2 linked regions of the Homo sapiens genome follow. Changing the gene in region 2 together with the main gene of any one other region gives a genetic interaction. Each region holds a gene or a part of one and is shown on either strand. Other genes may lie near its edges.

What was found. Genes that interact genetically often act in the same process or in processes that back each other up.
Region 1: changes in MRPL46 (region 2) and KRAS are lethal when combined (synthetic lethality), as found in Homo sapiens cells (2 studies listed by BioGRID, with this or other methods).

The regions. Positions count from the first base shown.
Region 1 is NC_000012.12:25,240,788-25,244,446, forward strand, and holds part of KRAS (GTPase KRas), read right to left. Parts: intron 1-3,659. UniProt on the Homo sapiens protein: Ras proteins bind GDP/GTP and possess intrinsic GTPase activity. Plays an important role in the regulation of cell proliferation.
Region 2 is NC_000015.10:88,458,965-88,461,829, forward strand, and holds the end of MRPL46 (large ribosomal subunit protein mL46), read right to left. Parts: intron 900-2,865; coding exon 649-899; 3' UTR 514-648; downstream 1-513.

The DNA of each region.
Region 1 (3,659 bases), on a different chromosome or scaffold from region 2:
AAAAACCATGACCAGTAAAGTTTTATATTCAGGTCTTAATAAATACTTATTCTTAATTTGACCTAAATACAGTACCTGAGTTTTCTGTTTATTCTAAAAATCAGGTGCTCACAACTATTCTACAGTCCTATAAAACTCTACAAAATGTGCACTTTCACAATTTGCCACTTCTGAATAGGACCCTCCTATCATCCCCTGTAACACACCACCAAGCCTTGGACTCCATTAAGCAGCTCCTGAGTGCATGCAAAGAAGCTCAGAGAGCCACACTGCTGCCTTTTAGTCCCTTCAACAAAGTAAGCTCAGTAAGTGTTAACAACTGAACCACCCTATTTTCTTATATACTGCCTCGTTTCCTTTCTTAGTTCACTATACTCACCTACTTAGTTAGGCCTAACTAATACAGACAGTAATCTTTATATTAATATTAGCAGAGAGCAAAAATGATACGAAATCAATCATATAAGACTTTTAAATAAAACGAATATATTTATAAATTGATGCCACCCATAATTTAAACAGCGAAACTACACAAACTTAGGATTTCACTGTTACTTGTTATAAAGCAAATAATTTGACCAGTAGAGGGCACTCACAAAAGTGGGGAGAGCTTCACAGCCTTGAAGAGAAATGATTTATAAAATTGCTGTGTGTCTCTGATTTTAAAAACAGAATGTTTTAATAGAAGACTGGAGTAAGCTAACATATCATTAACGTACAAAAGTTAAAGTTTAAATCTTTGTTATACTTGAAAATCTAACATAAACCTTATGTCAGGGACATGAATTTGACAATTTAAAGGATGTTTAAAGCTACAGGTTAACATATCAAGGTTTGGATCTTAACACCATTGAGGTTTGGGGTCAGATAACCCTGTTGTGGGGGCTTTCCCGTGCACTGCAGGAAGTTTAATATTAGGTTGGTGCAAAGGTAACTGCAGCTTTGCCATTTAAAGTAATAGCATCTACTCAATAGATGCCAGTAGCAGTACTCTCTCCCCAAGTTGTGGCAACCAAAAACATCTCCAGATGTTGCCAAATGTCCCCTGGAGGGCAGTCACCCAACCATCCCTCATTGATTACTAAAGATATATGTATAAACTCAGAAGAATAGCAGCTTACAAATTACATAAGGCTTTTCTTATACCAGTCTTCAGTATCAGTTTAATTTTACAAATTTTCTCTCTATAATCTACATACTTCATTCGTAGGTAAAATGAATTCTACAATGAACATGGAAAAATAAAAATAAAATAAAAATTAAAATAAACCTTGGTAAATAAATACTCTACAGCTCAGAACACTAAAGATGAAACAAACCAATCCAATGATTAATCTGGTCTTCCTTACTGAATAGGAAACTGTTCCATCAAAGAGGGGCATAATACTTGAACTGAATTATAAGTGCCACAATAAAAGCATGCTGATGTCAAACAATTAGAGCCTGGGAAAAAATACTTCCTGCTATATTTATTCTTACTAGCATATTATATACAGTAGATACTTAATATATATTTGGTAAGTGATCAACTAATCATTCTGATCTCTGTAACTACCTACATTTTTTTAAAACGAGACTTTTCCTCTTCCACCAAATTTTACCTTAGAAAAAAAACTTCAGGGTTTTGATAATAAATGATCTCTGAACTATAAAGGTATATATTTCTAGCCAAGTATTGTGTTTGGGGGCTATTTTGAGTTTTCAATAATCTTGCCCTAATAACGAGGTATTTCATTATCTCTTTAGTGGGCTTCATAAAAGATAACAATATATACTTCACAATACAAGTAAAGGTGATTATGTGCACAGCCTCGAATACAAACATACTCCATCTATGTGTCATACCTGAATGATTTTACATCATACCTCTGCCACTAAGTTGCCATTAGATAGCAGGCTAAGTTCAAATTTTGGTATACTTACAAATCTGAATTAGTCTCCATTAGTAAATATTTTCTTAATTTGAAAGATAGCTAATTTTCAGTTTTAAAAAGTTATACAAGAGTACAGTGCAAATTCTACTTAACTTGGTCTCAGAGAATTTAAATTGAAATCCTACCACTTATTAGCTACGTATCCTTAGATGAGTTACAACCTCTCAGAGACATTATTGAAAGAAACAATAGCCACCCTCCTTACTATCTCTTAGTGTAAATTTTGAAAAATCTAAATCACCAAAAAATACAGTATTACTTGATTTAAATTTTTAAAAAATTTATTTCCATTTTAAATGTAGAAAAACTGCTAATAATTCCAAAATGTGCAGTCATATCCTTTCTAATTTTCTCTCTGACCCACACGGATTGGTAAATACCAATCAAAACCTGCAATGGCAGTGAAATCCCCATATCCTCCTAAATTTTTAACTTTTTACAATAACATGGAGTCAGCATTTCCATTTAACCAACTATTTAACTACTAAGTTCTCCTGCCTTTCTTACAGTTTAACTACACCAAGAACTTAATGTAATGTGTCAGTTCCCTCAGAGACTCACTGTAACTTGGGAGATAAGAGATAATCTCAGATACCTTTTCCCAGGTGACTAAACTACGTCAGGGACCGTCAGTTTCAAAGTTCACAGGTAACCAATGCTTCCCAGAGTCAAGTCTTCTGGTTTGGCAGAAATCATAAGCAGAGTTATAGGTTTAAGTTTATAAACTTTTTCAGCCTTCCGCCCAAATAAAGGCTTAACTGTTAGCTTTATTTCTTCAACATTTATATTGCATTTTAACAATCATTAGCAAAAGGTTTCCTAACCCACTTTATCACATTCATGACGTCATGCTGTATATACTCATATAGCACTCATGACCTCTGATTGGAAACAAAGTGTAATGGAATTTCTCAGATTTTCAGGGAAGACAGACAGCATTTCCAGTAAAATCACCTTCCAAAATCCCAGGAAAACTTTCAGGCATAAAGTGAATTATATTAAAACTTCCTTTTACATCTGATTTAAATAGTAGAGTCTGCCAAGTAACCCTGAATTTGCAATACAGATTAAAATGGGTGCACTATTCAAACCTCTTCAAAGAAACAAAACTATAGTACACATTGAATTAACTTGTCAAAAGTAAATATACAGAGACTATTGCATAGGCAGTCTACTTCAATTAGACTGTTCCCCTTTACTGCTGTAAATTCTTAAAATTGGAAGCCAAATAAAGTTGTTTCTATGTTTAAATCAAATCTTTGCAAATAGGCATTATTTCTCCACTTTTTTATAGTACCAAAAATATGTGACGTTTCCTTATGATTAGTTATCTAATCAATTCTCCAGGTTCTAAACTGCATAAATATCTTCCCAAGGCCACCCAATGCCCTCAGAACTTGCCTCAGCGCAAAGTGTCTCTTCAAGACACTACACAGTACAGTACGTTAATAAGGCACTTTGACCTGTTCTAGATTTCACAGCTTGGAACTTGAAGAAAGTTCTTAGAAATTTTTCAGAACTGATTTTTTTAAATTAGTACACTAGATGTAGAATAAATGCTAAAGTATTAGGACTGCTTAACCCAGGGTAAAGAAGCCTAAGAAACAATCTAACAATATAGGGCTATTTCAAAGACAAGGCGATATGCTTATTTTCCATCTCCACTGATGTTAAATTTAACATGAAGATCCAAATTACATGTAAAATATGCTAATAAATATGTTC
Region 2 (2,865 bases):
TTGGGGTCAGCATTCTCCTCTAGCACCAACAGGCACATGCAGTATGACTCTGGGCTAAGTCACAACCTGGCCGTGATTCCTCCATCTGTAGAATGGAGATAAACTAACTGCACATTTCACATGACTGTTTCAAAAAAGGTTAAGACATAACTCAATTCTTTTTAAAATAAAATGCTTTTAGGAAGGGGGGGAAAGAAGGAAGGATTATTTCCCAGGCTAGATTAAAACACCTTCATATCAAGTGCAGAGGGAAGGAAAAACAAACTGGAAATGGCTAAGAAACTATATAGAACTAGTTTTTTCCCAAGGGCCTAGAGAAGCTTTCACAGAATTCAAGGCTTTCGGGAAGTCAATTCATTTCCTTCTGTCCTTTCTTCCTGGGCCCAGTAACTCAGTGACGCACTGTAATATAATCCAGTACTCAGTGATCACCTTGGGAAAAAAATGGAAAGACACCCTAAGAGATGGCTCTCTTCACTGGGCCATCAAAGGGCAAATCAGCTGAGACCAACACAGTAATAGACTCGTTTATTTCTCAGAATTTAGTTTGCTGCTTGATATTACCTGCAAATGTGAGGCAATCACACAATGTCCTTGAGGCTCTAATCCCAGACTTGTCTGAGCACCGTCCACAGGCAGCTCGGCCCATCAGAGGTCTGAAACAAACCTCCTAACTTGGGCCAGGTATTTTGGTTTCAAATAGTCACCCAGCTCATCCTTAGTGACCCACACATGATGGCCCTTATTCCCAGCCTGGGAAAAGTCTCCAGTTAATAGCAGTGCTTTGAAGAAGAACACCTTGGCTCCGAGGTTACTCTCTGTCCGCATTGCCTGGGGGAACTTGAATGTGTAGTGCCCACAGGGTGCATTTCCTAGGAACTTGGCTTCCATGTTGTTTTCTGAAGAGGGAGGAAAGAAAAATCACAATTGGAAGGTAAGGATACAGCCATCTGTTTACTCTGGCTCCCAAAATTATAGGGGGTCCCTGCAAGATCTGGCCCTGAGGTAAAATCAATCCCTAGGAATAGGACTAGAGCCATTCCTGAAAAGAGGCTCCTCCCCTCTCAATCCAAATGCCTCCTGGCCCATGGAGTCCAGATTCACCAGGCTCACTCCCATGTGCCAAGCTACTGTTTTTAGACTGAAAGTCAGCAACACAGTTACAATCACACCTGGGAGTCAGAGCACCTAGTTCCTACATTCAGCCCAGTCGCTATCTGCTGGCGAATCAGCCCAGTCGCTATGCTGGCGAATCAGCCCAGTCGCTATCTGCTGGCGAATCAGCCCAGTCGCTATCTGTTGGCGAATCAGCCCAGTCGCTAACTGTTGGTGAATCAGCCCAGTCGCTATCTGCTGGTGAAGGACGAGGACATTTGGTCTGTAAAACAAAGTTCATCCACCTTTAAAATGGGTGTCACCTGGAAAGCATTAAAAAGGACCCCAGTTTTAACTCCTACCTAGTGAAAAAAGGCATAAACCAAGTTAAAGACAAAAACAGATGAGTAGACAGTATCTGTAATCTATAACTAAGGGTTAACAACCCCAATTCAGCATTTCAAATGATGGGGAAATGATGGACTAATTACTAAACGGCATCTGAAGAACTGATTAGCCAGATGGGAAAAACCAAGCTGGATTCCATACTCAGTCCTCACAATAAAATTGATACCATATAGATCAAAGATTTAACAATAGACATTTTAACTTTTCATAAAAAATTTATTCATTCTGGATGGTTGTTTCATGGACATTTAATATTTTCCAATCTTCTCTGTATTTTTTTTTTCCCAAGACAGAGTCTCGCTTTGTCACCCAGGCTGGAGTGCAGTCGTGCAATCTTGGTTCACTACCACCTCAGGCTCCTGGGTTCAAAGGATTCTCATGCCTCAGCCTCCTGAGTAGCTGGGATTACAGGCATGTGCCACCACACTCAGCTAATTTTTTTTCTGTATTTTTAGTACAGACGGGGTTTTGCCATGTTGGTCAGGCTGGTCTTGAACTTGTGGCCTCAAGTGATCCGCCTACCTCGGCCTCCCAAAGTGCAGGGCATATTTTCTAATTACAATAAAAACACATGAGCATTAGAAGAAAATGCAGGATGCTTTCTTAAACCTTAAGATATTATTTGAGAGGGCAAGGCCTTTCTAAGCAAGAAACAAAATTTTTAAGCCCAAAAAACAAAAGATTTATATTTGTCTACATAAAAATTAAATCTTTCTGCAAGGAAAAATGAAGCACAAAAAAAGTCAAAGACAAAATGACAAACTAGGAAAAATATTTTCAACACGTTCAACAAAGGAATATCTTAAGGTATAAGAAGCACTTAAAAATCAATGCAGATACTCAGGAAGCTGAGGCAGGAGTACTGCTTGAGAATAGGAGTTTAAGGCCAGCCTGGGCAACATAGCAAGATTCCATCTCTAAAGGAAAAAAAATCAATGAGGAAAAAAAACAACAAATTAAAAAGAAAAATGAACCAAGCACATGAACAGTTAAGCTCACATGAAAATAAATATCACTGGCCCATAAATACATTAAAAGGTGTTCAAACTTATTAATAATTTAAAGAAATAAAGTTAAACAACAACATATATCATTATTGAAGTTCAAAAACTTAACTGTACTCTGCTTATGAAGGATAAGGAAAAAACCTGTACTTTCACACATATTTTGGAGGGGTTATAAATTAGTATAAGTGCTATTAATTGGCAAGAGGTGTCAACTTAATTGCACATGCCCTTTGACCTAGCAACTCCAGTTCTAGACTTTTATCCTACCAGATATACTAATTTGCCCATGTGAGCAAAGATGAGCATACAAGGATATTCACTGCAGCTTTGTTTGTAAAAACAGACTGGCTAAACA